4 linked regions of the Homo sapiens genome follow. The protein of the gene in region 1 interacts with the protein of each later gene in a biochemical or structural test. Each region holds a gene or a part of one and is shown on either strand. Other genes may lie near its edges.

What was found.
Region 2: the proteins of PPP1R9B (region 1) and ADRA2C form a complex in vitro, tested with the Homo sapiens proteins (one study listed by BioGRID).
Region 3: the proteins of PPP1R9B (region 1) and ADRA2B form a complex in vitro, tested with the Homo sapiens proteins (one study listed by BioGRID).
Region 4: the proteins of PPP1R9B (region 1) and ITGB8 form a complex in vitro, tested with the Homo sapiens proteins (one study listed by BioGRID).

What each region holds. Positions count from the first base shown.
Region 1 is NC_000017.11:50,140,678-50,147,677, reverse strand, and holds part of PPP1R9B (neurabin-2), read left to right. Parts: intron 1-2,432; coding exon 2,433-2,565; intron 2,566-3,959; coding exon 3,960-4,080; intron 4,081-6,304; coding exon 6,305-6,409; intron 6,410-7,000. UniProt on the Homo sapiens protein: Seems to act as a scaffold protein in multiple signaling pathways. Modulates excitatory synaptic transmission and dendritic spine morphology. Binds to actin filaments (F-actin) and shows cross-linking activity. Binds along the sides of the F-actin.
Region 2 is NC_000004.12:3,761,259-3,769,538, forward strand, and holds ADRA2C (alpha-2C adrenergic receptor), read left to right. Parts: upstream 1-5,126; 5' UTR 5,127-5,348; coding exon 5,349-6,737; 3' UTR 6,738-7,268; downstream 7,269-8,280.
Region 3 is NC_000002.12:96,113,071-96,120,995, reverse strand, and holds the start of ADRA2B (alpha-2B adrenergic receptor), read left to right. Parts: upstream 1-4,424; 5' UTR 4,425-4,846; coding exon 4,847-6,199; 3' UTR 6,200-7,925. UniProt on the Homo sapiens protein: Alpha-2 adrenergic receptors mediate the catecholamine-induced inhibition of adenylate cyclase through the action of G proteins.
Region 4 is NC_000007.14:20,333,294-20,341,382, forward strand, and holds part of ITGB8 (integrin beta-8 precursor), read left to right. Parts: intron 1-6,979; exon of another isoform or gene 6,980-7,175; intron 7,176-8,089. UniProt on the Homo sapiens protein: Integrin alpha-V:beta-8 (ITGAV:ITGB8) is a receptor for fibronectin. It recognizes the sequence R-G-D in its ligands.

The sequences.
Region 1 (7,000 bases):
AGTTTGGATCCCCCCACCCCACCCCCACTAATTTTGCGAGAAGTCCGATTCCCTCAGAGTTGGAGTTTGGTCTGGGCCTCTGACTGTCTATATTTGACGCCTTACCCTGATTTTTCAGTAAAAAATAGCACATGATTTGGAGCAGTGCTTCCCGGCTCCCTGGTGACTTTGGAGCTGGCCCGCCCTGTGTGAGAGCCAGCGTGTGTGGCGGGCCCAGTGTGGCTGGCTTTCAGCCTCACTGGGGATTTCCTCCTCCCCACCCTGGCACAGGGGCCCCACTTTTTCTTCTTCCTGCCCCTGCCTTGATGCCAAGTCCAGGGTCCCGGTCCCCATGGATGACCCAATTGTTGCCCTTCTGGAGGTGGAGGCCTCTGCTGAGGGCAGAGAACCCAATTCCAGCTTGGCCTCAGGGAGGTGGGACCTCCCCTAGGGCCCTCTGCTAGACCGGCATATCATGGTGGGCAGCCCGAGGAGGGGTAGGAGGTGGTCTGGGGCCTCTGAGCCCAGGCCTGGGATTCCTGCAGGCGGCAGGACCAGAAAGGGAACAGGATTTGATAGGCTGAGAGAAGAGGGCAGGGTGCAGCCCAGGACAGGCTGTGAGGTGTGTTTTGGAGGTCACAGCGGGCGTGTGTGTCCATGTGTGTCAGGGAGGGGTTTCGTTGACTCAGGAGACTGTAGAGACTCAATGATGAAGGGACCGTGTCTCCTAGAGCAGAGGGTGAGAGTCAGGGGACTCCAGTGCAAAGTGGGCCAAATCCCACTGCTGAGTCCAGGCTCACATCAGCCCTGTCCCAGAGCCTGGGGCATGTGTGCAGTGGAAACCAAGTCACCGGTGACCCACCCACCTGTCCCAGCTGGGTGCAGTCTCATTCTGCCTGGCCACAGTTTAACCCATGTGACCTTGGGCAGTGGGCCTGGTGCCCTGGACTATGTGCAAGGTAGGCAGCCTGTTTGTTCGAGGGGTGCAATGGACAGATGAGCTTTAAGGGCTGGAGCCAGAGTTTCTCTGATGCTGTGAAATTGAGGGCATTGAGCTAAGTGACCAGAGGGGTCCCTCCCACCTAAGCCTTCTAGTCCTATGAGCACCCCCTCCCTCTCCCACTGTGGCAGTGAGCCTCTCTGGTAGGGGGTGGGGACGACACGGAGCAAACCCAGACAAAGGCTGGGACACGAGAGTGCTGCTGCCCACCAGGGTGCCCACAAGGTCTGCTCCTGGAGGAGACGGGCCCTGACAAGGGCCCTTGGGGGAGATGGGGTCCTAGTCTGACTCCTCGGGGCTCAGACTCAGCCAACTGATAGAGCTGTTCCCCATCCCTCCCCGCCCCCGCCTGGCTCCAAGTGGTGCCAACCTGTCACTGCAGGCGATGAAGCTTGAGCATGTCATGGTACCCCAAATGGTGCTCATTAACCTCCCACTGGGGGCACCCCTGCCTGGGCCCAGAATTAGACATTCCCACAGAGCCCAGCCCCACCTTCTCTGTCCTTCTGAGGGAGTCAGAGCTGAGGAATTCCTCTTTTTGCTGAGAGACATTGGAGAGAGACAACAGAGGGGTACAGGAGATGCCAAGGCAGGGGTGGCCTCGGAGCCCCATGGCGCCTGGGTTCGCTGTGGGCAGTGTCAGAGGCTGTCCCCTCCTCAGTCTCCTGGGCCCCCTAGCACATGGACAGGGGGCGTAACTTAGAGAGCTGCAGTTGTGGAGGGAGAGCGGCCTGGGTGTGCAGGGAAGGCCAGGCCCAGCTTTTTCCCCTGCTTCTGCCACCCGAGGGGCTCCTGGGGATGGAGGGCCTGCCTCTTCTCCACGGGGATAGAGATGGTCTTTCCTGCTTCCCTCCCCTGCTCCAACATCCACTTGAGCGGCAAGTCAGAGCCAGTCCTGGGTACCTCTCCCCTTCCACCCCTCCTGCTCCCCTCCTCCTCTTCTGTCTCACACCCGCTCCCCCCTCTCTCCCCATCTGGCATTCTCCAGCATCTTCTCCATCCTCTCTCCCCTCCTCCTCTTCCCCTCTTCTGCTCAGCCTGTTCCTTCCTCTCTGTGTCTGTCTTTGTGTCCCCTCTCGCCTGTCTGGCTCTCTGGGTCCTATCTCTCACTTTCCCTCTATCTGGGTGTCTGGGTTCCTGAGTTGGACGTTTCTCCAGGATTCCCCTTCTGTGCCTATGGCAGACCATGCTCACGCTGGTTGGAGCTACAGAGAGAATAGCAGTGCGGGTCTGCCAAGGCTGGGTCCCTTTCTGTCTTGACCCTGGGCTCCAGAACTATAAGGGCCTTTGTTTTGCTCAGAGCTGGGGTCTCAGGGGACTGGGTGAGGCCTCATCTCAGGGCTATCATGGGGAGGCATGGGGTGGGTAACTCAGCCTGCCTCCTCGGCCTCCTCATGCCAGTTCTGCACTTGTCCTCCTGCCGGCCTCTCTGACCAGCTGCCTCCCTCCCCAGGTGTTCAGCACTTACTCCAACGAGGATTACGATCGTCGCAACGAGGATGTGGATCCCATGGCAGCCTCTGCTGAGTACGAGCTGGAGAAGCGTGTGGAGAGGTTGGAGCTGTTCCCTGTGGAGCTGGAGAAGGGTGAGAGGCCAGGAGGCCACGTCACTTGCGCACAGCTGGGGTTGACCCGGGTCTCATCTCTGGCACCAGCTCCTGCCCTGTGCCCTCAGGGGCTCCCACAGACTTGCTGGGCCTCTCCCTCTGACTCAGGCCCTTGGTGACCTTCCCCGCTCCTCCCTTGTCAGCACCCAGAGCAAACAGGGCCTCCAACCCAGGCCAAGCCACACCCCCACCACCCCGGTCATGGAACCACATTTGCACATTCAGTTAACAGGTCTCTGTAGGGTACTGTGTGCTAGGTCCTGGGCTCTGTGTTGGGGACACAGTGGTGGGCTCCTGGGGAGATGGATGGGGGAGGCAGACATGGAAGGCACAGTCACATCTAATCTCACCCTTAGGCGCTGGAATAGGGGCTGGGGAAGGTAAGGAGGGGCCACTGTAAAAGCGTTTAACAGGTGACCTAACCAGACTGTGCTTGGGGGCATTCTCCAGGGAAGTGAAGCTTGAGTTGCACTCTGGTGAGGAGGAATTAGGGGAGTAGTCAGGAAAGGGGCTTGGCTGCATTTGCATAGGGAGGGCAAGAAGAGCATGCAAATGAGGCCTTGCAGACCACGTGGTCTTGTTGCTAAGATGGATTGGGAGCCATTTCGAAGCACAGGAAAGGTCTAGAAAGACCACACCAGGCTGTGATGTAGGGAGGGGGTCACAAGTGGATGGAGAAAGGCCACTGTGGCGTGGACAGGAAGATGGCAGAGCGGGTGTGGGTGGACTGGAAAGATCTCCAGGGGTAGAATCCATAGCATCTGGGGGTCATTTGGCTCAGGTGGAGGCTGTGAGTGGGAGGGAGGAATCCAGGTGCCTCCCAGGTCTGGCAGGTGGCAGGTGGTGGTACCATCCCCCATGAGGGAGTGTTTGTGGGGGAAGGTCATTAGTTGGGACATCAGAGGGCCATGAGTCAGGCAGGGGCAGGTGTGGATAGGGGAATGGACCTCAGGGGAGAGAAAATCTGGAGGTCTTTGGTCCTTGAAGCTATGAGTACAGATGAGACTGGCTGAGAGGGAGAAGACCAAAGGCTTAGGGCTGAGTCCCATCCTGGCTACCCCCATCCTGGCTACCCCCATCCTGGCCACACGCCCTGGTCTGCATATGCAACAGTCTTACCTGCCTGTGCCACCCTTGGCACGCTCTTCTGCCCATTGGTTCTTTGGAAGGGACAAAGGGCAGGGAGCGGCTCAGGAGCCATCCTAGTAGACTTGGCAAAGACGGTGGACAGAACTATATCCCTTCTTCAGTTGTGGGACATCCCCTAATGGGGACTGCTTCCTGATGGGGGGGCTGTGCCCTGGAATTCGGGGTGGAGAGTCTCTCGTCTGTCCCCTACAAGCCCTGCCATCTCACCACTCTCTGTTCCACAGACTCCGAGGGCCTGGGCATCAGCATCATCGGCATGGGCGCCGGGGCAGACATGGGCCTGGAGAAGCTGGGTATCTTCGTCAAGACCGTGACGGAGGGTGGTGCGGCCCATCGGGATGGCAGGTACCAATCCTCCCCAGTCTCGCCTGACCCTTTTTCCCTCTCCGACCGGCCATCCTTGGTGGGGTGGGCCACTGAGCAGGGGGTGGGGCGGGCCTTCCCTGGGAGATTTCCGTGCTGTGTGTGCAGCTGAGATGTTCGGGGAGCACTGCCATGCCAGGTGCTGTTCCAGGCCCCAGAAATACAACAGTGAGCACTGTCAGCCCCTATGCCCTGAAGGAGCGTGTGTTCTCCAGGAGGGGCTGGTGACCATGGGGGCTATAGGCGTGTGTTGTGCATCCCGGTCTGGAGTACAGTTTGGGCCCTGGTAGGGAGAAGACAGGCATGGAGTATATTTGAGCTTTTTTTTCGCTGGACATTGAGTCTCTGACAGTGTTGGGCCGGTGCTGGGCCCTGGGAAGTCAATGGTGAGGGCCTGGCGCACTTGAGAAGTGTGCAGTGTGGTGTGAGGTAGACATTGAATAAATGGACACACAAAAGGTAGTGAAATGGAGGGAAATGCAGACTGCTGTGAAGGCATACAACAGGAGGGTTTAATCTCTCTGGGCATTAGGGAAGGCTTCCTGGAGGAAGCAGTGCTGGAGCTGAGAGCTAAGGCTGGAGCAGGAGTTAGCTGTGCTGAGGGAGTGAGTGCAGAGGTTCCAGGCAGTGGCGCCATGAGCAGGCAGGTGTGGCTGGGGCATAGAGAGCAGGGGCCAGGAGGCTGTGACTAGACCCATTGATGGCAGTGGCTCTGGAGACAGGCTGTCTTTGCGCATGTGAGTGTGTGTGCCTGTATTGAGCATCTGTGGTTGCAAGGGGTGAGTTCTGTGGGACAGAAGGTTCAGGGAGGGCATCCTGGAGCTGTGTGCCAGCCAGGGACCCCTGTGTTAGCTGTGTATTCCAGGGGTGTGGGGAGTGGCAGTAGGAAGGGCTGTAGGGCATCCCCCAGGGTGGCTGTAAGTTAGAGGTGACATTGGGGATCTCTTGTGGTGGTACCTCCAAACCCAGACCCCCTCCATGTGACAGAGGTGAGCAGGTGTCCTTTGGGATCTGGGTGACTTTGGGATCTTGTTTCTAGAGATGGGGCTGCCCTGTCAAGGGGCTTCTACCTGTTGTGGCCCAGGTGGCATGGAGAGGGGCCGGGAACAGGATACCCTTTCATTTACCCCTTCCCCTCCCAATGTGAACTTCCAGAGCCTTTCCCATTGTTGCCTGTGGGTTGTCTAAGGAGTGAGTGTGCATGGTGGCCGTGGCCACTCACTCATGCCCACCTGGGAGTGGCATGTGTTGGGGTGAGCTGTTGACAATAGGCCATTTCCTCCATTTCCGTGTGGGAGTCCTGAGAGAAGGCCTGGAGCTCCCAGGGAGGTGGAGTGGAGGAGGGAGGTGTCTGAGAGGCCCCCCACCCTCCATCTCCCTCAGCAGGCCAGACTGAACCTCCCCTTGTATGGAGAACACGGGCTTCAGGGGACACAACTGGAGTGTGTCGGCAGGTGCACCTGTATCAGGTGTGTGTGGGACAGTGTGTGAACTCGAGAGAGTGCCATTCGGTCTTGGGGACTTGGGAGGACATCTGTGCACTCAGTTCTGTGCAGAAATGTACACGTAAGAGGGTGGCATGTCACTTGTGTGCTGTGGGGCTCCTGGCCAGTGTGCATGGCAGAGATGAACTCTGAGAATGTCACACCGCTCAGTCAAGTATGATGAAGGAGGGGACAAGAGTGTGATTGTCACAGGAAGTGTGCCTGCCGCGTCTCCTGGTCCTGGACGCCTGTGTCTGCTTTGCTTGCCTGGCTCTCACTGCCCACACAGGTGGGCCTGGCTGACACTTAATCCTCTGGCCTTGTGAATGTTACGCAGGTAGACAAAGTACCAGGTCCCTGTGAGGACAAAGTATCTGTGAGGTTTTTTGTTGTTGTTTTCTTTTCTTGTTTTTTTTTGTTTTTTTTTTTTTTTGAGGCAGGGTCTTACTCTGTTGCCCAGGCTGGAGTGCAGTGGCGCAAACACAGCTCACTGCAGCCTTGACCTCCCTGGCTCAAGTGATCCTCCCACTTCATCCTCCCAAGTAACTGGGACTACAGGCACGTGCCACCATGCCCAGCTAATTTTTCTTTTTATTGTTTGTAGAGATGAGTTCTCACTATGTACTCAGGCTGGGGAGCCTGGAGTTTCTGATGGGAGGAGGCTACCTCTACCCTCGCTCCTCGGTTCCCCTGTGACCCCTTAACCAATGTCACTCCGCTAGGATCCAGGTGAATGATCTCCTGGTGGAGGTGGATGGAACAAGTCTGGTGGGAGTGACCCAGAGCTTCGCGGCGTCTGTGCTCCGGAACACCAAGGGCCGAGTGCGGTGAGAGCCCAGAGGGGTGGGGCGTGGGAGCGGGCAGGAGGTCCTCGTCCAGGCACTCCGTTCACCTGCCTTAACAGCCAGTTAAGGTTCTGGTGGCCCAGCTCACAGAGGTTCTGCTGACTCCTTGGCTGCAGGAGTTGCTGTGCCTGGAGTCCCTCGCCTCACACCTGCCTTCTCATCCCAGCTCCCTGGCAACAGCTGGCCACCAGTACTCAGCCTTCCTGGCCCACTGTCCACCAGCCCTCCAAACTGTCCTCTAGGGCTTCTTCTCCTTCCCCCTACCTGTCCCTGACTCACTGACTGAAGAACCAGGACGTCCAGGGTGAATGCTAACCATATTGGGGTCCCCTCATTGGGACCTCATGCCCCCCACCCCGACCAGCCCTATGTCATCCTGGGAAGACTCCGCCCCAGGCCTGTAACCAAGGGGACTGGATCAGAAGCTCCCTGTGTCCACTCTACCTTTGGCTTAACATTCAGGGATCACTCCCTGCCCCCCTGCAAGAGGGGTACTACCCCCAGGAAAGGGTGGTGGAGAGAAACAGGATGTGGGTGGCCACCGGGAGGAGGGGCTGGTGCCTGGAAGTTCCA
Region 2 (8,280 bases), on another chromosome or scaffold:
AGTGGAGAGGGGTCTCTCCCCGAGTCCAGCCTCTTCCCTTTCCCCTGCGGACACCAACCGAGGGCAGAGATGGGCAGGCAGGCGCCACCCCCACCCCCAGGAGCTCACAGCCAAGTTGGGGGAGGGGGTCACTCAGGGCTGGCATGGGCCTCGGAATGCTCTGGTCCAATGCTCCCATTTTACAGACAGGGGAAACTGAGGCCCTGGAAGCCAGAAGGCTCCCCCACTGCCAGACAATAAGTAAGGGAATGAGCAGGAGCCTAAAGCCACATCTGATGACCCCAAACTCCATGGAACTGAGAAAAGGGCCTGTTGGCCAGGGGCACTGGGGCCTGGCACAAGCAGCCACCAGGTGAAGGCACCCCCTGCACTCAGCACCCAGCAAGCATCAGTGCGGCTAAGGAGGCTAGAGCCAGGCCCACAAGCCCATCTGCCCTTCACGGCACCCATCCTGCCACCAGGCCTTCATTCAGCTCTTTCTGTGAGCTGAGAGCCCAGCCCTGGACCAGGCAGTGGGGATGGGACACAGCTGAGATGTATGGTTACTGATGATGGCCATGCCCCATGGGGCATGCAGGAGGCCGGCAAAAGTGGCCCAGATCCAGCCCGGGAGGTCACGGGAGGCTTCCTGAAGGAGGAACATCATGGGACAAGTCTTGAAGGAAGCGAGCCCCAGGAAAGATGAGGCAGAGGGCATCCAGGCCTGCGGACAGCACATGGTCAGGCCCAGGGTCCACAAGAGTTAATGAGAAATGTCCTCACAGCTCACAGCGTGGAGAGGAGGGCTGACCGCAGGAGCCAGGTGGAGCTGTGCAGACCAGGCAGGCGAGGCAGAACCCAGCCGCAGCCCCGGAAGAGCTGGCTGCAGCAGCAACCCAGAAATACATCTTCTCCTCAGCCTAGGAGGGTGGGCAAGGCCACAGGTGCCGCATATGTGTGTACACATCCATATATGCGAAGCCATGTGTGCACATGCATGACTGGTGTCATGCATAGGGACAGATGTGTGCAGCACAGGCATACACACGTGTGTGCAATGTGCATGGATTCGTGTTATCTGCACAGGGAAGGCTGTGCGTGCCCGCAGTATGCACAGGTGTGTGCACAGCATGGGTGCATCATTTCTACATATGCCAGTGTGATACATATGCATGTGTAGACATACGTGTGCAAAAAGCACGTGTGTATGATAGTGCATATGTATATATGCACCTGCATGTGAAGAGTACACGGGCATGTGTATGCACACGCAGGCATGTGTGCATGTGTGGGAACATGTATGTGTGCATACATGTGTGTATATTCTGTAGGCATGGATGCACTGTAAATCCACATGGTATATGTAGACAGTGTGTGTGTGGATGTGTGCATGCATGTGTGTGTGAAGGCATGCAAGTGTGCATGAATAGGTTGCATGCTTGCATGCATGTGTGGATATGTGTATGTATGGGTGTTCATGCTTGCATGAACACACGTGTATTCATGATATGTATATTCATGTGTGTGCATGGATCTATGTGTGCACAAGGATGTGTGTGGATACATATATGTGTGTGGACACTGTACATCTGCGTATGTGCATGCATGCCTGCATGTGCAGGGAGGGGGCTCAAGGAGCCAAACTCCCCTCCACCCGAGCTGAGGCTGCTCACGAAGCCTAGAGCGCGGCATCCCAGGCAGGCACCCAGCTCTCTCCGGCACAGCAGCCAGGGCCCAATGTCCCATGGCTGTATGGCCCTGCTGGACCAACCCTGTCCTCCTAGGCCCCACGCATCATGGGTGAGATACAGGCAGGTTCGCCTCTGCAGCTCCAGGACGTGCCACTTCTAGGTTCTCAGTTCTAGGAAACACCTGTAGGTTTCCCCTCTGAAATATGCCCACTTCTGCCATGTACTCCCCTGCACACGTACACACAGACAGCCCCCACAACCCCCGCCAGTGCAGCCTGACTCCCCCAGCACCCTCCTTCCTCGCCCCTCCTGGTCGTGCCAGCTCGCGTCGTGCCTCGTCAGGACAGGAAGTCTTGCTGGGTACGTGCTGTTCTGCTTGTTACGGACAATCCGGAGCAGTTCCTCAAGCCTAATTTCAAGGTCTGGGGGAAGAGTCCTCTCCAGCTTCCTTGCAAACAGCTGCGGTCCCGGGCCCTCCCACCACAGGCAGGCCTGCGTGCAATGCAACCCCTATGCATGGCCCAGGGCTTCGCTCCTCCTAATGACTCCAGGCCCCAGCTTTTTGCCCTTGGCTCCATCCAGGCCCTGGAGTGGACCCTTCTGACCCCTCCCTGGTCATGCCAGGAGGTGTTGCCAGCAGCATGTCAGCCTGTTGGCTGCCATCCCCAAGGGCCTGGGCCGCTCACTGGCCAGGCACTCCAGATGCCCTCAGCCTGGCCTGTGAGTGGCCCCTGCCTTCAGCCCTCCTGGGCAGTGGGAGGCTCATCTGGCTCAGGGCCCCAGGTGCTCCGTGTCCTTTTCCCTCCAAATTCCCGTGCCTGGGCTGCCATCTCTTGGGAACATAGGAGCCAGGATCCTAGATAGATCCCCATGCCCCTGCGCATCCCCCAAAGCACTTCTCAAAAAGAGAGCCCTTCAGGATGGGGGTGGGAGGCACGCTGATGCCGAGGGAGAGAGACCTTCTCCAAAGCCTGCATCTGGCCCCTGCCACTGCTCTTTCCTAGTCCTCCTGTCTCCCCACGCCCCCAGTACAAAGCCCACTCCCACTGGAAGAAGGACAGCCTACAGAGGCCTCCCCCTTCCTCATAACACCTCCTCACTCTCTAAGCACAGTTTGGTCACCTCCTCCAGGAAGGCTTCCTTGACAACCCCGCTCCCAGGCTGGGGGAGGAGCCCCAGGGCACTGATGGTTGTCAGCGCATTCACCTCAGTGGGTGGCCCCATCCACCCACAGATGGTGAGCACCTCAACTGAGGCCAGGCCCCCCTCACTCTCTGCCATCGCAGAGGGCTCAATAGAGACAAGGGCTCCAGCGGGCCGACCATGAAGGAAGCAGGTGTGTGTGGGCTTCCCTGAAAAATGCACCTCCAGGTGCCCTGGACAGGTGGCACCTTTTAGGCAACCAGAACCAGGAGGGCCTTTAGTAAGGATGGTGACCCTCCACCATCCCCAGGTCACACACCTCCCACAGGACAGCCATGGCCTGTTGCCTCCCCGAAGGGCATATGTGCCCTAGACTAGCACAGGACTGGCACAGAAGGCTTTGGCTCCAACGTGCGCCCCTGCTTGGCAGGCCCATCATCTGAAATATTTGCTTTCTGCCGGGCCCTGGCTCGGCCTCCACACCCCCAATGCAGGCCCTGCTGGTGACAAACATGGTGAAGAACGAAGCCGTAGCTCCTGGCAGTGTCTCTGCGGAGACAGACATGCTCCCCAGTAGGGCTGAGCAGCAGAGAACACGACAGGCTCTGAGGCTAAAGCTGGCGCCCTTCAGGAGCTCAGAGAGAAGCTGCCCCAGGCCACGGGCATGGATAGGCATCCCGGGGGTAGGGCAGTCACTCCAGCCGCTCTTCATGATGACCTCCCGGGCACTCAGAAGCGCCCCTTCCCCGCCGGTTCTAGCCACAGGATGGACAGACCTTCCCTCCCTCTCTCCTGCGGGCCCATGCAGGGAGAGGCCAGCCAGCTGGGGTTCGTTTCTGGACGTTTGGGAGAAGGGTCGTCCCTTCGGTCCTAGCAGAGAAACGTCAGGCCTGAGAACTCCAGCTCTCCTCCTGGATCACCTCGTCCCTGGAAGTCCCTCTCCCACAGACCCCAGGCTGCCTGGAGGCAGAAGCCAGCACCCAACATGGGCCACAGAGTGGCAGTGCACGTGGCAGTGCACATCTGCAGAATGGAGGTGCGCGGACGGGGGCGAGGGTGCACGGGGGCTACCTCAACGGCCGCTCTCCCCTGAGCCCACCCTTGCAAAAAGCTCCATCATCCAGGCAGCTCCGTTCTGGGTGTTTGTCAGAGGTGGTGACTTTGAACACCTCTCCATCCTTTAAAAGCAGGGCCTGAGAGCCTAAGGATTAAACTTCAATCACTGCTAACATGGGTGCAGAGCTTGGGAGCTTGCCCAGGGCTTCCACAGACACCGCCGTTAGTTATGATTCATGCTCCAGCAGCGCTGGGAAGTGGGCCGAGGGAACTGAGGCCGGGGTGGGTGCGGAGGTGGCTCTGACGGGGAGCGCCGATCCAGGATCTGGTCCGGACCCTGAGCTCGGCAGGACCTGTGCGCACGCAGGTAGCGTCGCGTCCTCCCCCAGGCTGCGAGAGGTTGCTCTGCCATCAGGCCATGGACCCCGAGCCGCCCGTGCTGCGCGCGCGCGTGTGCGCGCCCCCGCCTGCGCCCATGCCTGCGCCGGGGGAGGCGAAGGAGGCTCCAGTCTTAGAAAGAGCAGCTTCTGGAACTCACCACCCAGGCCGGCCGCCGCTCGGCCCCGTCCCGCAGGCTGCAGGCGGCCCTGGAGGGGGCGCCCTCGCCGAGCGCGCGCCCCGCGCCGCCGCCCCGGACTCCTCCCCGGCGCCGCGCGGGCAGGTTCGACCAGGCGGCCGCGGGCTCCGGTTCCCGGCCAGCTCCCCAGGGCCCGCGGCCCGCCCCGCCCCGCGCGCCCGCCCCGCTGCGCAACTCGACCCAAGTTGGAAGCCGATCGCAGGCGGCCGCACTCGCGCCCAGCGCAGGGCGGCGGCGGCGGCGGCGGCGCAGCTCCGGCGAGCGAGGCGGCGGCCGCACGGCCAAGCGTGGACCGCGGGGGGCGCCCGCGCCCGGGAGCAGCCGGAGGACTCGCGGCGGCGCCGGCGCCCCGCCCGGGAAAGTAAAGTTGGAGACGGAGGGAGCGCGCGGGCGCGGGGGCCCGGAGGAGCGGCGGCCGGCGCCCCGGCGCGCCGAGCCCTAGCCGGCCGGATGGGAGGCGGAGCGCCCGGGCCGCCGCCGCCTGTCGCCTGCGCCCCGGCTGGGCTCCGGGACCGCGGGGCCGCTCAGGCACGCCCGCTCGGGCGCCGCGTCGCCGTGGGCTCGACGCCGGGGCGCTCCCCGTGAGCCGGGCCGAGGGCGGGGCCGCGCGAGGACCCCGGGACCTGCCCCCCTCCCCCCGCAGCCGCGTCGCCGCTCGCTCCGGGCGCCTCCTGCTCTGCACTTACACGCTCGGCAGCTGCGGGGAGCCCGGCAGCCACGCTCTCCGGCGCGCCGCCCGCGGAGCCACCACGGCCGAGGGCCGGCTGCTGGGCGCCGCGGTCCCCGGCGGGCGCGCCCGAGCAGCAGGCGGCGATGCGGGCGCCGACCCCGGCTGGGGGGCGCCCGAGCTGCCGCGGCTGCGCCCCGGCTCCAGGAGGGACGGCGTAGCTCGCGGGAGGACCATGGCGTCCCCGGCGCTGGCGGCGGCGCTGGCGGTGGCGGCAGCGGCGGGCCCCAATGCGAGCGGCGCGGGCGAGAGGGGCAGCGGCGGGGTTGCCAATGCCTCGGGGGCTTCCTGGGGGCCGCCGCGCGGCCAGTACTCGGCGGGCGCGGTGGCAGGGCTGGCTGCCGTGGTGGGCTTCCTCATCGTCTTCACCGTGGTGGGCAACGTGCTGGTGGTGATCGCCGTGCTGACCAGCCGGGCGCTGCGCGCGCCACAGAACCTCTTCCTGGTGTCGCTGGCCTCGGCCGACATCCTGGTGGCCACGCTGGTCATGCCCTTCTCGTTGGCCAACGAGCTCATGGCCTACTGGTACTTCGGGCAGGTGTGGTGCGGCGTGTACCTGGCGCTCGATGTGCTGTTTTGCACCTCGTCGATCGTGCATCTGTGTGCCATCAGCCTGGACCGCTACTGGTCGGTGACGCAGGCCGTCGAGTACAACCTGAAGCGCACACCACGCCGCGTCAAGGCCACCATCGTGGCCGTGTGGCTCATCTCGGCCGTCATCTCCTTCCCGCCGCTGGTCTCGCTCTACCGCCAGCCCGACGGCGCCGCCTACCCGCAGTGCGGCCTCAACGACGAGACCTGGTACATCCTGTCCTCCTGCATCGGCTCCTTCTTCGCGCCCTGCCTCATCATGGGCCTGGTCTACGCGCGCATCTACCGAGTGGCCAAGCTGCGCACGCGCACGCTCAGCGAGAAGCGCGCCCCCGTGGGCCCCGACGGTGCGTCCCCGACTACCGAAAACGGGCTGGGCGCGGCGGCAGGCGCAGGCGAGAACGGGCACTGCGCGCCCCCGCCCGCCGACGTGGAGCCGGACGAGAGCAGCGCAGCGGCCGAGAGGCGGCGGCGCCGGGGCGCGTTGCGGCGGGGCGGGCGGCGGCGAGCGGGCGCGGAGGGGGGCGCGGGCGGTGCGGACGGGCAGGGGGCGGGGCCGGGGGCGGCTGAGTCGGGGGCGCTGACCGCCTCCAGGTCCCCGGGGCCCGGTGGCCGCCTGTCGCGCGCCAGCTCGCGCTCCGTCGAGTTCTTCCTGTCGCGCCGGCGCCGGGCGCGCAGCAGCGTGTGCCGCCGCAAGGTGGCCCAGGCGCGCGAGAAGCGCTTCACCTTTGTGCTGGCTGTGGTCATGGGCGTGTTCGTGCTCTGCTGGTTCCCCTTCTTCTTCAGCTACAGCCTGTACGGCATCTGCCGCGAGGCCTGCCAGGTGCCCGGCCCGCTCTTCAAGTTCTTCTTCTGGATCGGCTACTGCAACAGCTCGCTCAACCCGGTCATCTACACGGTCTTCAACCAGGATTTCCGGCGATCCTTTAAGCACATCCTCTTCCGACGGAGGAGAAGGGGCTTCAGGCAGTGACTCGCACCCGTCTGGGAATCCTGGACAGCTCCGCGCTCGGGGCTGGGCAGAAGGGGCGGCCCGGACGGGGGAGCTTTCCCAGAGACCCGGGGATGGATTGGCCTCCAGGGCGCAGGGGAGGGTGCGGCAGGGCAGGAGCTTGGCAGAGAGATAGCCGGGCTCCAGGGAGTGGGGAGGAGAGAGGGGGAGACCCCTTTGCCTTCCCCCCTCAGCAAGGGGCTGCTTCTGGGGCTCCCTGCCTGGATCCAGCTCTGGGAGCCCTGCCGAGGTGTGGCTGTGAGGTCAGGGTTTTAGAGAGCAGTGGCAGAGGTAGCCCCCTAAATGGGCAAGCAAGGAGCCCCCCAAAGACACTACCACTCCCCATCCCCGTCTGACCAAGGGCTGACTTCTCCAGGACCTAGTCGGGGGGTGGCTGCCAGGGGGCAAGGAGAAAGCACCGACAATCTTTGATTACTGAAAGTATTTAAATGTTTGCCAAAAACAACAGCCAAAACAACCAAACTATTTTCTAAATAAACCTTTGTAATCTAATGTTGGGTGCCGCAGTCAGTCCTTGAGCTTGGGGGCTGGGGGTATCTTCCAGACCCTCACCCTGCCTGACACCCTCCCCCATCTCCCCCACCCCACAATGCTGGACGGAGGGCACCCTGGGCCTCCGGGTTACAACTTCCTTCTTGCATGAGAAGGAGGGGTCTTGCTTTTTCTCAAGCTAACCCTTTATGTACATGGAAAATATGTACTCAAAATTCCTGTGCTGAGAGTAGCGAAGAGGTGAAAGGAGCCTAGAACCCCCAAGTTGACCCCAAGTTTAGATTCTGGGGGACTGTCTTCCCTGCATTCCCATCCCTGCCCCCTGCCCTTCCCCACTCTGATATTCAGGGCCTCCGGTGGAAAGAGGTGGGGCTCTTCCAGTCCAAGACTGAGAGTAGCTTTGAGCTAGTCCTCCTGGCTCTGAACATTTTGTGGGCGTGGCTCTTGGGTGGAGAGAGGGTGGGCGTGAGGCCGGCAAGCCCCCACACCATCACTCTTAGGCCAGAGGCCTGGCCAGAGCCAGGTTGAACAACAGGCACTTTCTTATTTCCGAAACAAACTGAAAGTCATTGAGGCCCCAGAGCAGTGGAGTGGAACAAACCAGCAATGTCTGGAGAGGGGCCTGGGGCCGGCCTGTTTCCTGTGGTGCCCCCAGGGTCTTCCCAGTGCAGCCCTGCCTTTCCCCCTTGCTCCACCGTCAGGCCCAGCAGGTGTCCACACTGTTCACACTGCTGCTTGAGGAAGGGCAGTGGAAAGTGGGGGACAGAATACCAAGGTGGGCTTCCTGGTGCTGGGCCTTCATGGTGTAGGGACCACTCAGACTCAGCCGTGTCACAGGGCCTGGAAGTTGCCAGGATGGCTGGAGGGGAGGGGCAAAAGCGGGACCTGCGCCTGGCAGGAGCTGGGCAGGGGTCCCCCCAACACACACGCACAGACAGCTCGGTAGGCGTGTGGGGGCTGTGTCAGGCCTCCTGCTTGTGACCATCCATTCCCCATTCCCGTCCCCCTTCCC
Region 3 (7,925 bases), on another chromosome or scaffold:
TTTATTGTGGGGACGGCCCTGAACCTTGCAGGACATTTGGCAGCATCTTTGGCTTCTACCCACAGATGCCAATAGCGGCCCCCTCCCTGTATTCCAGACATTGCCGAACGTCCTTTAGAGGAGGAGAATCACTCTTAGCAAGAACCTCTGACTTAAGAGTTTGGGAGAAGAAAGGGCTGCAGAGGAGTGGCTTTCAAGGCGGTCACAGACCCTGTGAGTGTTCCAGGGGAAGGGCTGCTGTGCCAAGTGCTGCTGAGAAAGAGGGCAGAATAAGCCTGGTGCTTGGTGATGTGGAGTAGGGCATGACCCACAGAAGACCCTCGGTGGAGGGTCTGAAGATGACCTGCCGGGGGTTAAGGAGAGAATGTGAGGGGTCAGCCACAGTGCCTGGATACAGACACGGGGGGAAGGTGGCTATGGGAGGCAGCAGAAAGGTGATGGGGCTTGGGGGGCAGTTCTAAGGGGTGGGGCTGGCTTTGTAGAGTAGGGGCAGTGACCATAAGAGGGGGATAACTGAAGCGGGGGAACCCTGGGGTGAGATGAGAGGGGTTGGGCTCTAGGGCATAGGTTGAGGACTTGCCCTTCAATCAGCAGAGAGAGTTTGAGGCCAGATGCAGGTGGGCGGCGGGGGTGAGTTCCTGCCTGGACTTCCGTTTCCCCCTAAGTACCAGGCAGAGTCACAGCATGGTGGGGCGGAGGAGTGGCTGGGAGGTTGGAGAGGGAGGGAGGGATGCCGATTTTAACAAGTGGGAAAGTGAGCATACTAGGGAAGTTTGGAGATTTGTGGTCATGAATTTAGAGTGAGGCCAGTCGATGCAGAGAGTGTTTTGCTCCGGAAAGAGCAGCTGCTTGGTCAAAGGCAGGCAGTGGGTGGATGATTTAGGTTTGACCAGAGCTGGGGTTTTGTCAAGATCTTTATGCAGAGAGGACGACTGACTTCTATTATAGAGGACACGACCCAAGGATCTGGGAAGTGGGGAGGTTGGGGCATACAGGATGGTCTGGGGTTAAGAGTCCCAGGGACTGAAAGGCTGGTGGGGGGCGGGGTACATCTGGAGAAAGGTGGGGTGTGTGGCCTGATGGGGGTCTGTCCCAGTGGGCCCTTAGGGGAGGGAAGGCACCGTTGTGAGCTGCTGGAGCCCCAGCCCAGGAGATCTGGTGGCACCATCTCACCTCTCAGGCCTGGAGAAGTGTCTCCATGGCTTCCAACTAAGGTCTCACAGCCAGCAATGGGACAACAGTCTTGCCCTTCTTTGGAAAAGGTGGATCGCTTCCATGGCTAGGTCCTTTCCCCATGGCCCCTCTTCCCAAGGACATCCCTCCAGGGCACCCTCATTTGGGCTATCTGTCTTAGAATGCTCATGTGTATGAGTGCACTGTTGCCTGCTGCCACTGTCCCTCACGGCCAATGACCTTGTGCCAGGTACTGGGGACAGAGAAGGGATGTCCACTCTGATGGGCAGAGGTGATGCAACAAACCCATCAGAGAGCATCTTAGTACAGTGTGCTGAGTGTGAAAGTGGTGCCGCCTGGCGTCGAGGAACCTGGAGAATGGAGGTCCTCCCTCTGCCTGAGAGCCTGGTGACTGGTGAGTGGGCCTTGAAATGTGAGTAGGAGCCCACCAAACACAGAAGGAAGGGTGATAGGGCATCTCTATCAGAGCAAACAGCCCCAGGGAAGGTCTAGAGAGTGGAGACCCAGGGCACATTCAGAATCCAACACTGGCCTGGCGGGGCAGGGATGGAGGGCTGGGATCCAGGTTGTGCCCTGCTGCCCACTCCCCTGCTATGTGTCTGGGAAAGCTCCGGCTGCTCCTGCTGCTGGCTGTTGCTGGTCTGGGACTGAACTATGCCCGTTCCTGTGGAACAGGATGACAGTGGAAGGTCAGGTCTAGTTTGGGAAGAGCTGAAGGAAGCCTTGCTATGCTAGTAGGCTCCAATTCCTGCACCTGGCAGCCTCATGGGGCTGGTTGGAGCAGGCAAGGCCTGAAGGTGTGTGTGTGCGGGGGGAGATGGTGAGCCGCCGAGAGGAGCAGGAGCTGAGTTATGTTATGGCCTGCGTGGCCGTGGAGAGCTGGCGCACCCACGCTGCACTTGTCCATCCTGGGGTGGAGCCAGGAGGAGACAGCTGCAGTAGACGGTGACAGCCTGGGGCAGCGGTATGGATGCCAAGGCAGCTCCTGCTGCCCGGAGGGCACACATCTCCCAGGTCTGCCAGCTGTAGACTCTGTCCCTGGCTGTCCCCACCTGGCCTAGTGCCTAGCTGGCCCAATGAAAGATGCCTAGCAAGGCTTGGCACTCAGTAGACCCAAAGTTGTCACTTCTAGGAAGGCCCAGGTAAGCGTCCTCAGTGGGGACTTGCAGGGTGGGGAGGGCACACGGGCAACCCAGTCTCAGCTCCTGCAGCATCCCTTGAAGGAAGATGGGTCAGAAGACAAAGGCTGATGCTGGCTGCAGAGTCTGGGGAGCTGCTCACTGGCCCCCAGCCCAAGTGTGGTTGGAGACAGTGGAAAGGCGGTTCCTCCCGATGCCCATGTGGGCCTCTAGCAGGCCCAGACTGTGAAGGCCTTGGGAGCCCCTGGATAGGCAGGCACCTGCCTAAGTAGCTGCTCCCAGGCTCTCATGGCCACCCTCTGTCCTTCCTCAGGGAAAGAGCTACTGGCATCTCTCCATCACTGGTTATGTATGCCCAGGCGGCGCCCAGGCCCTGCCCAGCCCAGAGGGTGGGAAAGACACATCCAGGAAACTGTGTCTAGCAGAGTGGTCGGTTTTGAGCTGAAGCCTAGGGTTGGGGGTGGGAAGGAGGCTGATTGCCCTGTCCGAACCCAGCCCTGGCAGCATCCACCCCATGGGCTGTGGGCACTTGCACCTCACCAGAAGCTGGGGAGTCTGGCAGAATGACAGGGATGGGGGGATCAAGGAGGCACCTACTCCCAACACACCCCCGTGGCTGGGGGTGCTGGTCTGGGTACCTGAGACGGGGCACCTCCCACCTGAGCCTGGGGAGGCGCTAGACATTGTCCGTGGGCACTGAGAGGCCACGTGCTCTGCTCCCATGGAGGGAGCAGGGAGGAGAGGAGGTCCAGCAGGTTGGACGGGGCCTGGGGGAGCCCCACTGTCAGAGGTGGATTGGTGCTTATTTATACAGAGGATGCCTTGCAGAGTCGTGGGCTGTGAATAAGAGGCCTGGCTCGAGGCGGGGCTTATGACATTAGGGGCTCCAGAACCGGGGAAACATGCCCTCAGGGCTGCCCAGGCTGGTGCTGGTGGCGGTGTGGCAGGGAGAGTGAGTTGGGGCCCTGAGGGAGAACAGTTGCTCATAGCGCTTTGAAGGCGAGTGGGGGGCCTTAGTCTGAAGTTTCTTTTTACCCCAACCCTCTTTCCACTGTCACCCCCAGAAGGGCTTCAGTGTGTATGTGGGGCAGGACCGCAGCAGGGAGGGAGGGTCAACCCCTTCCCCCGGGGTCACTACAGAAGCGGAGGGACGCTCCTCTCTTCACGGCTGCCCCTGAGACCTGCTTTTTCTCGGAGCTGTGTGACAAAGTCCCCACCCTTTACTCCCCCACGGCAAGGAAGGGACCTCCCCTTCGCATTAGTCAAGGGGCGGCAGCTCGCCCTGTGCCCCGTACAAACCCTTGGCTGAATCGCAGTTGATGCTGTGATTCGAGTCCAAGCCAGTTTCCCTGTTACCTCCTTTGCCCTTAATGGAGGAAACTGAGGCAGCTGCGGAGACACAAGAAGCCGAAGTCCTAAGACCCAGGCTGCGAGCGCTGGCTCCGGGACCCGGGCTGCCGCTGACGGGCTGGGCCCGCGGGCGGCAGCAGGGGGCGCTCGCAGGCCGGGACGCGCCCTCCTCGCGCGGCGCTGGCCCGACGGAGCTGGTCCGCGAGGGGCAGCGCCTGGGAAAGGGTCGGGACCGGCTCCCCGCTCCCCGCTCCCCCACCTCTCCGCAGGGCGTCTCCACGGCCGAGCCGGGCGGGGTTGTGGTGTATTGCGACCCGGCGCCCCAGCCCCACGCCCGCCCTGCCCTCCCTGCGGGCTCCCGAGCGGCGGAAGGCAGAGCAGGGCGCACCGGCGCCGGGCCCAGCCCGGTTCCCCCGGGAGAAGTGTCCCGTCCCGGTGCCGGCCCGCGCGCTAGCTCCGCGTCCCGGCTCCCGGCACCCACCGACCCCTCCACAGCTGCGCGCGTCCTGCCTGGGGGCCGGAGACCCCGGCCGCCGGGCCCCTCCGCTCTCCCGAGGCGCGGCCGCCGGGAGGAAGGCAGGTAGAGGCGCTGGGCGGGGTCCGGGCGCGGGAAGTCCCGGGCTCACGCCTCCCGCGAAGCGCACCTTCAGCCCACCTCGGTCCGCCCACCGCCCCGCCTCCCGCCCGCTCCCGCGCCCGCCTCCAGTCTCCGCCTTCCTCCAGCCGCTCTCCCCGCTCCCCACTCCCCTGCAGGCGCGGCTGGGGCGAAAGCCTGCGAGCTGAGCGGGCGCAAGGTCCTCCGCGCCTCCTTTAAGAACCGGCCCAGCCCGGCCCGCGCCCCCAGAGCGTACGGCATCCGCGTGGCGGGAGGGCGCGACTTTCTCCGGTCCCGGGCGGGACGGGGACGGCGGCGGGACAACTTGGGAAACTTCTCTGGGGCGGACGGCAGGGACCCCGGGCACCGGTGGAGGAGGATGTAGGAGGGCGGCTGCTGGTCCTGGGTGTTCCCGACCTCCTAGGCCCCGCTCGTCCAGGCCATGGGGCTCCAGCGCCCTCGGCGCCGCCCGAGGGGCGACGCTCTTGTCTAGCCGAGCCGGGCAGCGCTGTCGTCCACGGTGCGCACTGGGCGGGCAGCGCTCCCTCTGCCCACCTCCCGCCCCGTCATGGACCACCAGGACCCCTACTCCGTGCAGGCCACAGCGGCCATAGCGGCGGCCATCACCTTCCTCATTCTCTTTACCATCTTCGGCAACGCTCTGGTCATCCTGGCTGTGTTGACCAGCCGCTCGCTGCGCGCCCCTCAGAACCTGTTCCTGGTGTCGCTGGCCGCCGCCGACATCCTGGTGGCCACGCTCATCATCCCTTTCTCGCTGGCCAACGAGCTGCTGGGCTACTGGTACTTCCGGCGCACGTGGTGCGAGGTGTACCTGGCGCTCGACGTGCTCTTCTGCACCTCGTCCATCGTGCACCTGTGCGCCATCAGCCTGGACCGCTACTGGGCCGTGAGCCGCGCGCTGGAGTACAACTCCAAGCGCACCCCGCGCCGCATCAAGTGCATCATCCTCACTGTGTGGCTCATCGCCGCCGTCATCTCGCTGCCGCCCCTCATCTACAAGGGCGACCAGGGCCCCCAGCCGCGCGGGCGCCCCCAGTGCAAGCTCAACCAGGAGGCCTGGTACATCCTGGCCTCCAGCATCGGATCTTTCTTTGCTCCTTGCCTCATCATGATCCTTGTCTACCTGCGCATCTACCTGATCGCCAAACGCAGCAACCGCAGAGGTCCCAGGGCCAAGGGGGGGCCTGGGCAGGGTGAGTCCAAGCAGCCCCGACCCGACCATGGTGGGGCTTTGGCCTCAGCCAAACTGCCAGCCCTGGCCTCTGTGGCTTCTGCCAGAGAGGTCAACGGACACTCGAAGTCCACTGGGGAGAAGGAGGAGGGGGAGACCCCTGAAGATACTGGGACCCGGGCCTTGCCACCCAGTTGGGCTGCCCTTCCCAACTCAGGCCAGGGCCAGAAGGAGGGTGTTTGTGGGGCATCTCCAGAGGATGAAGCTGAAGAGGAGGAAGAGGAGGAGGAGGAGGAGGAAGAGTGTGAACCCCAGGCAGTGCCAGTGTCTCCGGCCTCAGCTTGCAGCCCCCCGCTGCAGCAGCCACAGGGCTCCCGGGTGCTGGCCACCCTACGTGGCCAGGTGCTCCTGGGCAGGGGCGTGGGTGCTATAGGTGGGCAGTGGTGGCGTCGACGGGCGCAGCTGACCCGGGAGAAGCGCTTCACCTTCGTGCTGGCTGTGGTCATTGGCGTTTTTGTGCTCTGCTGGTTCCCCTTCTTCTTCAGCTACAGCCTGGGAGCCATCTGCCCGAAGCACTGCAAGGTGCCCCATGGCCTCTTCCAGTTCTTCTTCTGGATCGGCTACTGCAACAGCTCACTGAACCCTGTTATCTACACCATCTTCAACCAGGACTTCCGCCGTGCCTTCCGGAGGATCCTGTGCCGCCCGTGGACCCAGACGGCCTGGTGAGCCCGCCTGCGCTGCCCCTGTGGGGTTGGTGCGGTGGCGCCGGGGTCACCCTGCTTCTTGCCCTGCTGTGTGTGGCTGCCTCCCCTGGGCTTTCTGCTCCCTGCCCAGATCCTGTAGGCCTCATCTTAGGAACCCCTTGGGAGGGGTGGGCAGGGGGGCTGCTAGCAAGGGTCCCAGTGAAGCTTCCCCTTGCCGGCTTAGCTGTGGGGGACCCCTTCTCCACCCTCTCCCTGAGCACAGGCCGATGGAGGTGGTTCAAATCCTCTGGAACATAGCCAAGACCAGGAGAAGAGAGAGCACTTTCTTCCCAGAGCCCCATGCTCTCCAGACCAATGTCTGGGCTTCCCTTTCTTGAGGACCTTGTGTTCCTGGCAGGTCACTTGCTTGTGGTGTTTTCGTTTCTTTTTCATCTCCCCCCCACCCACAAAGAGCACGGAGCCAGCCTTCCACTTTTCCCAGTGGGGCCTGCTGCTGAGGGGGAGGAAGAAACGAAGACTGATCACCCACGCTAGGCACTCGCGGTCCCTGGCAGGCGCTGGGATGGGGGCTTATGGGGTGGCATCGTCTCTGGGCCCTCCTTTCCCCCTTTGCCTGTTTTCGGATCTGTGGTTCCTTTGAAAGCCAGAACAATGGATCGGCTTCCTTACCCAGCACCCCTCCGGTAGGTGGGTGGCCACGTGGATGCCTCGCTGGGGCGGTCTTGGAGGCCTGGTCTCTGCCTCGACGGGAGATCCCCGATCACTGGCATTCACCCCCTGCAAAAATCGGGGCGACAATAGCTCACTGCCTACTTGCTGCAGGGAGATGAAAGGCTTTGCAGAAAGCTTTGAGCTCTGTGGGGGAACACACTAGAGAACCAAAAATGTGATTATATGGTGATATAAAAATCCCTTTCCTCTGTGTTTACCACCACCTGTCTTCCTGTAGACTTTTGTTCTGTCCCTGGGGTGTGTGAATTCCTACCCCGAACTGGAAGCCGGGAGTGGCAGACAGAATCACTATTTCAAGTTAAAGGATCTCTTTGAGAATGTGTTCTTCTGGCTGCAAAGGTCTGAGTTATTACGCTACATGACAACGTTTCGACATTTCACCGGCAACACCAAGAGGGTTTTTAGTGGCTTGGGTCTCCCCAGTGGGGGATAAGTCTTTTGTCATCAAGGAGGCAAATTGTCTCCCCAAGACAGCTCAAAATATCCACACCTCGGCAACAGTCTAAGATGAGAGCCTGTGACAGGTGGCAGCGCCCCCAGGTGGGGTACTGGCATCAGAGCCTGGTGCGCCCCTAGGGGAGCCTCCCACTGGAGTGCCCGGCCAGGTCTCCAAGCCCCAAATGAGTCCTTGTGAACCACAACTGATCCCCCCAGGTGGGTGCTTGTGGACTGCCTCGGACCCAGCCACGCTGCTCCCCGCAATGCTGATGGGGCTGTGCATTGAGGACCCCTGCTTCCTGGTTCTCAGTCCCACCCCAAAACCTGGCACCCAGAACAGTTGGAAGTGTGGAAAGGAGGTTTATCGGCCTTCCCTTGGAGAGGGCCTGGCTTCAACATTGGGCCAGTAGGCATCTTAGCTTGGCAGGTGTCGGGGGAATGGGCCAGATGGACCTGCTAGATTTGGAAGGGCACCGAGGGAGTTTTCTGGGTGTAGAGAGAATGGAGGGGACCAAAAAGAGTCCTTCCTGGGGTGTGGGAGGCTTCCCAGCTTGGTCCTCAGTGGGTTGTTGAGGCCA
Region 4 (8,089 bases), on another chromosome or scaffold:
TTGTTTGTTGATTTCAAAATAGTGAAAAGGCAAAGGAAAAAGTAACATTCATTATCAGTTATCTCTTAAATGGAAGAAACATGCATTTGTTGCAGCAAATTTTCCGCTAAGCATAATTTCATCCTGTTTCAATAAGTAATAAAGTGCTTTTCTAGATTTAGTAAACACACATACACACTAGTAAAATGACCAAAATTTGTGTTAACACAGTATATTTTGTTCCCAACGTACAGGCAAAGGAAAAAGTCCTACTTGCCTCTAAAATTTACTATTTAAAGTACATTTTTAAAAACCATTAACTGTGCTTATAAACATTAGTCAGGCTCTTGTGAAAAAGCATTGCATTTCTACCCAGTGTCTAAAACTGATTTGAAGGAAATATTATGAATGGGCCTACTTGCACCTGCAGACCTGAAAAGGGAATGCTTATCTGAAATCAGAACAAGGCATCCTTTTCCCAGTCTCTGTCAATATACAAAGGTTTCTGATGTATACTGATTTGCATGGCAGTTAAAAACATGCAAAAAATGTAAATTATAGCCAGTATAACTCAGAAAATTAGAGATCAGCATAAACTGCTGTACTTTTGTGATATAGCTACAAGTCTCAAATTATATGTCTTTACAGTGCAAATTAGATGCTTAAAGCAGAATAGAAATTTAGGTATCAGTTACAATGGAAATCTTGTTTCCTTGCTCAGTAGTTTACACCAGGAGAATGTTGAGGGCAATAAAGCCATACAAAAGAGACCAGAAGCTGCATAAGACCAGCATAACTTTGGGTTTAATTTTTAAAGCAGAATTTATAGGTCTCGAACATATAGTGGACTTTTAATAACAAATATATAGTGAGCAGTGGGGGATGTTATTAATCAAATCCAAAGATTTCTGATGTAGCAAAAATTATAGCAGTTTGTTTTTTAACTGTCTCTGGTGAAGATTACCCACAGCTAGAGAAATAATAGCACTGTAAAATGGTCAATAAATAACCAGAAAAACATAAAGTATATCTAGTGGTTAATATTTGAAGAGTTAATGTAGCAACATTGTTTCCACATTTACTTATTTTAAAAGATTAAGAACTTTCATTACCTAAATTTTTATATAGCAATATAAGTGTAACAAATTTCAGATATCACAGTTTCTTTTAAAAAAGCGGTAACTATTATTGCAATCAAATTTCACCTTCTGTGTATTGCAATGAAATTTCACCTTCTGTTTATTCAAGTATCAATTATTTATTATTTTCAACAACAATCAACTAGATTAACATTATTTTGTGACCATATCATTACTTCCCCTCAAAGCGTTGCATAGCATAAGTGTTCCCAGAATTATTTATGCTTACCTAAAGTGATCGGATATTTAAAAGAACCAAGGTATCATTAACAAAAAATTCAGCCTTCTAAATTATTTGCATAATAAGCTCCCAAATTAATTCTATCTTGAAGCAATGGAGACACTTTCTGATCAATTAAAAATCATACATGTTTGCCCTCTAAACTGACAGCAAAGTAGCTGATATGCTTTGGAAAATTCCTGTGCCCCAAAATAACTTCTTCTCTTGTTACCAAATTATCTGAAATCTCACTACTTAATGGATTCTTTTTGGTTAACCATGGTATTAACCCTATGATTTTTTAAAGTTTTTAACATGGTATAATGGAAATTTTCAAATGCATACAGAATTAGAGAGAATGGTATAAGGGACCACTATATACTCATCACCCAGCTTCATTAACCATCAACTCAAAGCCAACTTCTTTCATCTGTGCTCCTGCTGGTACCCAATTCACCCCCTTCTCCCAACTAAATATTTTGAAAGAAATTTTTCATATCATTTTATTTTAAAATATTTCAGTAAATAAAAATACTACTGGAGGAGGAACACACTGTAACTAATCTTAAAGCATGAATTTTTTTAAAAACTGAAACTTAGGGCAACAAGAATGTTCACAATTTTTAAGGGAAGCAATTGCAAAAGAGAAGGACACGAGGAATGGGAAAGACACAGTTTCAACCATTTACTTTTCAATAGTTCTATTATAGTTCCATTAAAAATATTTTTATTTTGAAAGTATGGATATGTAATAGCTTTTTGATACGCATGTATATGAACAGAGAAAAACAACATGAGTAAATCTGCTTCCCGTGACAAATGTTAATTGTTTTATTCCAATGGAATCACAGCAGGTATACCTTGTAAAGTTTCAGTTTCAAGGATCTGCCTGCCCTTGCATGATTAGTTTTTCTCCTATCTACTGTATCATTTAAAGCAATATCCATATATGTGGCAAAACCTTTTTATCTCCTATTTTTTCTCTCCTTTTGCTATAAGTCCTTGAAAGAGTTGTCCGTAACTCCTCTCTCCGATTCTTCTCCTCACCTTCTCTTTGAATCCATTGTGAGCAGGCTTTCTTTATCACCTCTGCAGTCCACTCTCTTAAGATCAGGGTAACCTCCACATTGCCAGATCTGATGGCTAATTCTTAATCTCCATCCTGCTTGATGTATCATCTGTTGGTGACTTGACACTGTTGACCTTGCCCTCCTTGGAAACAGTTTTGTTGGCTTCTTGGACCCACACTCTCTTGGTTTAAGCTCCTTCTCCATCTCTGATGTTGATTCTTCCTCATTTCTTAACCTCTAAATGTAGTAGTGGCTCAGGACCCACTCCTAAGGACTTCTCTGATCCAGTCTTGGTTTTCTTTTTTTTTTTTTTTTTTTTTTTGAGACGGAGTCTTGCTCTGTCGCCCAGGCTGGAGTGCAGTGGTGCGATCTCGGCCCACTGCAAGCTTCGCCTCCTGGGTTCACACCATTCTCCTGCCTCAGCCTACTGAGTAGCTGAGACTACAGGCACCCGCCACCACGCCCGGCTAATTTTTTGTATTTTTAGTAGAGAGGGCGTTTCACTGTGTTAGCCAGGATCGTCTTGATCTCCTGACCTCGTGATCTGCTCGCCTCGGCCTCCCAAAGTGCTGGGCTTACAGGCGTGAGCCACCACACCCGGCCCAGTCTTGTGTCTTAAATACCATTTCCACATTGACACCTCCAGAATATTTATCTCTAAACCTGACCTCCAGAAGGTGCAGCAAATTGTGTAAACCATGTCTCCACTACACGCCTAAAGGCAAAGACCCTAACGCATTCAAAACCAAACTCCATTTTCTTGTCCAGTCTTCATAATCACACTGTGAGAGAGGTCCCTGTTTTTGAAACAAATAAACAGGAGCAGAGGAGATAAGTAACTTGCCCAATGTCACCTATCTAGTAAGTAGGAGAGATGGGATTTGAACATCGTAGAGAAAGCTTGAATTATGCTTCATAATATGAACTTCCTAATCAGTCTTCATCATTTCAAACCTTTGTCCACATGTTCCTTTCTACTCAGAACTTTCCCCTAGCTCCCCATTGTCTTCAGGCTCCTCATACAACTTCCTCCCAGCTTTGCTATGGACACACCCACCTGTGACCTCCTTGAGGGAAGAAGCTGCCTGTATTTTTGTGTGTCCAATGCTTGGTACACAGTAGGTCTTCACAAAGTATCTGGAGTAAATGACCCCATAGATAACTTGAGGATAATAGTGAGCAATCTAAAATTGGGCAGCTAAGCAAATTCTCCCTAATCATTTCTAAGCCTCACTAGAATTTGAACTTAGAGAAATAAAATTTTCTTTTAAAAGTGGGTTACACCATAAAGGACACTTGTTTCTGTTTTCCCAGACCATACCAGAAAGCAGTCTCTTGACCTTCTGGACAAATCATTAGCAAAGATTAAAAGCTGAGACTTAGTACTCTTTAATCTTATTTTTCAAAGTCTGTCTTGTTTTCAAACTTTCTGTGACAATGATTTCTATTGTTGATAATAAAATATAAAAAGTAATCCTAATTCTTTACCCTTGGTATCAACTTTAAAATTGATTTTACAATTTTACAAAATTGTAATTAGATTACAAAAACTGGAATTTGTAGTCATTTTCAACTAAATACTTCAAAAATTACAAAAACTGGAATTTATAGTCATTTTCAACTAAATACTTAAAAAATTAATAAAAAATCCAAGCTATTCTAACTCCTTTAATGACTATTCATTCAGACTTTCTTAAAGCACATACAGCTTTATGACAGGCACTATACTGAGTTCTGGAGTTAAAAAATAACAACGATTAAGTTTTGTGTATTATTTACTGTAGGCCAGGCACCCTCCTGGACACATTATTTGAAAATATAATATATCCTTTAATGCTTACAACCCTGTTAGTTATATACTGTTATTCCCATTGTATAGGTAAGCAAACTAATTCAAGAGGCATTGTATAACTTCTTCCAGATCTCTTAACTAATAAATAATGGTCCCAGAATTCCGATCTGTGTGGTTTGAGTCAGCATTCTGAATCATAATTATAGACATATAGATTGCTTTTCAAAGGTGAGAGGAGTCCCTACCTTGAACCTTGGAAGGTTCAGCTCTAGCTGTCCTCAGGCCATTGACCTCAACCATGGGCAGGGAGTCCATGGGGCTTGCTCAAGTAAAGTCTGTCACCCCCTCTAGATCATCTCCAGAATTCTTAGCCTAAACAGCCTCAGACTACTTTTATGGCCTGCCTTCTGGGGGTAAACTGAGTCACCCCTGTGCCAAATCCTAGGTGAAGATGGCCAAGGACACTGATGCAGGAGAGGTAAACAGAGCTTGGACATGCAAGCTGAAGTGTCCATGCAGGTAAACAACAGGCTACCTGTGCTGCAGAATAAATTTAGAGGTGGGAGAGAAGAGGGGAAGATAATGGCTGGAGAGGCAACGCTTCACACACTGCCCAGTTCCTAACTAGAAATCTGGAGGTGAATATTCCAAATTCAGACCTAGCCTTCCAGGTCATTATGCATATATATTTATCAAGGAAGGAAGATAGAACTTATTTTACCTATGGGTTTCTTTGCCTGGTTTGTAGCTGTTAAATATGTAGTCTGTTATGCTCACTGCTATTTGTGTTCTTGCTGTTGGCCCTGAAACAGTTAGGGGCAGACTTGTCTACTAGTTTAAATATTACTGGGGGCCGGTTGCAGTGGCTAACAACTGTAATCCCATCACTTTGGGAGGCTGAGGTGGGAGGAACACTTGATGTCAGGAGTTCGAGACCAGCCTGGCCAACATGGAGTAAAGACCAGCCCGTCTTTACTAAAAATACAAAAATTAGCGGGGCATGGCAGTGCGCACCTGTAGTCCCAGCTACTTGACAGGCTGAGGCACAAGAATTGCTAGATCTCAGGAGGTTGCAGTGAGCCAAGATCATGCCACAGCACTCCAGGCCTGGGCAACAGAGCAAGATTGCATCTCAAAAATAGATAAATAAATAATAAACAAATAAATATTATTGAGCCGGGGAGACAAAGAAAGCACCAGAGACCATTGCATAAGGTAGTCTGGTAGTCTTGACTACCTCATGTCAAAGTGTTTTTATATTTTAATAACTAAATCCCTTTTGGTAATCTTTGAGATGTGTACAGATTATACAAAATTTTACTCTCTTGCAAATCATGTTACAATGAGAGTCAAATGTATGCATAGTCTTAATTTAGTTTTACTTATTTCCCTCTATTATTTTAAAAAATATCTTAGAAGGCTGGCCACAGTGGCTCACACCTGTAATCCCAGCACTTTTGGAGGCAGAGGTGGGTGGATCACGAGGTCAGGAGTTCGAGACCAGCCTGGTGAACAGGGTGAAACCCTGTCTCTACTAAAAATACAAAAATTAGCTGGATGTGGTTGCACACACCTACAGTCCCAGCTACTCAGGAGGCTGGGGCAAGAGAATCATTTGAACCCATGAGATGGAGGTTGCAGTGAGCCGAGATCGTGCCATTGCTCTCCAGCCTGGCGACAGAGCGAGACTCCATCTCGAAAAAAAAAAAAAAAAACAACTTAGGAAAGAACATTTTACTGACATGAATGACCTAATTTGGTCAAATTATTCAGTTGGCATATATTTGATATTTAATATCTATAAGTGAATGACTATATAGAAAAAGCAGTGCCATACTATATTCATGGAGTAAAAGGACTATTTTTCGACTTAAAGTGAATCTTAATGTGACCTTATTTCCTCTTTCGCAGTAAGTAAATTATTTGATTTACACACCAAAAAAGTGTATTGAAAGTCAGAATGATTTCCATTGGGATTTTATAATTTAATTAAAACAGACCCACCTTTTAACAAAAGTGCTAAGATCAATTCTTGCTAGGAAACTACTAATATTAAACAGATATATTTAAATTATCTTCCTGCAGTTATTGAAAAAAGTCCTTAACTAATATTAGTTTAGGAAACAAAAATAAGATTATTAACTTAAAATTGCATTGTTAAAGTGTTCTTATCAGATATATACTTTTAAGATGATTTTTAAAGATGCTTCTATTTTGAGTGCTATTATCCAAAGTACTAAAAGTTCATTTTAGGCCAGGCGCGGTGGCTCACATCTGTAATCTCAGCACTTTGGGAGGCCAAGGTGGGTGGATCACCTGAAGTCAGGAGTTCAAGACCAGCCTGGCCAATATGGTGAAACCCTGTCTCTACTAAAAATACAAAAATTAGCCGGGCATGGTGGCAGACACCTGTAATCCCAGCTACTTGGGAGGCTGAGGCAGGAGAATCGCCTGAACCCGGGAGGCGGAGGTTGCAGTGAGCCGAGATTGTGCCACTGCACTCCAGTCTGGGAGAGAAAAAGCGAGACTTTGTCTAAAATAAAATAAAATATAAAAGTTTGTTTTATAAACAGCATATAGGGTCTTATAAAGTGGCCTTTCATGCTGACCTCATCAATGAGCCAACCATCACTGCTATAATGGTTTTAGACGTGCGCTATCTCTGCCTGGTGTTTTATTGATGTTTTGCTTTGTTGTAATCAAATAATACTGTTACATTTGTTAAGGACAGAATCTGTTGCTATTCCAGATAAATATTGGTATCGTTTGTTTATTCTAGAGGATTGCCAAAAAATTCACAGTCTCGTGATAGTACAGGGTAAGAAAGCAGAGTAGCTGTCAAGGGCTAGTTCAAGTCAAAGCCTATGGAAGAGACCGAGTTTGGAAGTGGAGAGAAGGGCTGGTGATGAAGACAGGAGGATGAAAAACTAGAAATATTCCAGCTCTGAAGAACTGTACCAAATATGTCATATTAGGTATGTGAGATGTGTGGTGGATTTGGGCCAGGAATGTTTTGGTGTTTTCCATGGTTTTGGACTCAACTTCCTTTTAGGATAAAGCGGGTTGAAATTTCAAGATCTGCCGATAGTAAATGAAGCCACAGTTAAAAGTACTGCTGTTTCATGTGTACATGTGGTATCAGGGATCTTTCCTTGGAATTGAACCACAAACAGCTTCCCAGGTAAAGGCATTTTTTTTTCCTGATTTTAGTAAGGACCATATATTTAGGATTATTTCTTAGTAACTGTTACAGGTACTAGGTAGGGAAGGGGGCTGGGTGAAAAGCTTCATCCTTATGGAATGAGGGATTACCACTATGCTGTAAAGGATCATTAGAATATTATGAGGTCAAACAAAGAAAATAATTAAAAGGAAAATTCAAAATTCTACAAGGACTGGATTGACAGGATTTATATTAAGGAGTACCAAATAGGGAATGTCTTTTCTAATTGCCTGCTGGAGAGGTGCAAAGAGGCCAGGCTGGATAGGCTTAGTCATGCAAGGTATTCATTGACTGCAATAGAACAAAGGATGCAAAGAAGTTTTGGGGTGGCAAGGACTTGCTGTAGAACTGGCTGTTCTAGTTGGAAACAAAGACACTATTGTAGCAGAACTGCATTGTTGGCAGCAAAATGACTGGCTGGTCTCTTTCTTAGTACAAATCATACCTCCCAAGGTATTGCTCCATTGTGTTTTTGTGCATTTGGTTTGGATTTTTATGGGGAATTGAAGACAAGTGGATCATAAAGTGCAAAATAAAATGCTCTAGAAATGACAGATGGGGCACAATTTCCAAGAAAATTCATCTAGACAGTGGCAACACTGAGAAAAAAAAGAAACATTCAAGAAGGGAGTTACAGTTTCAGACATCCTCAGTTTTGGTTAAAAA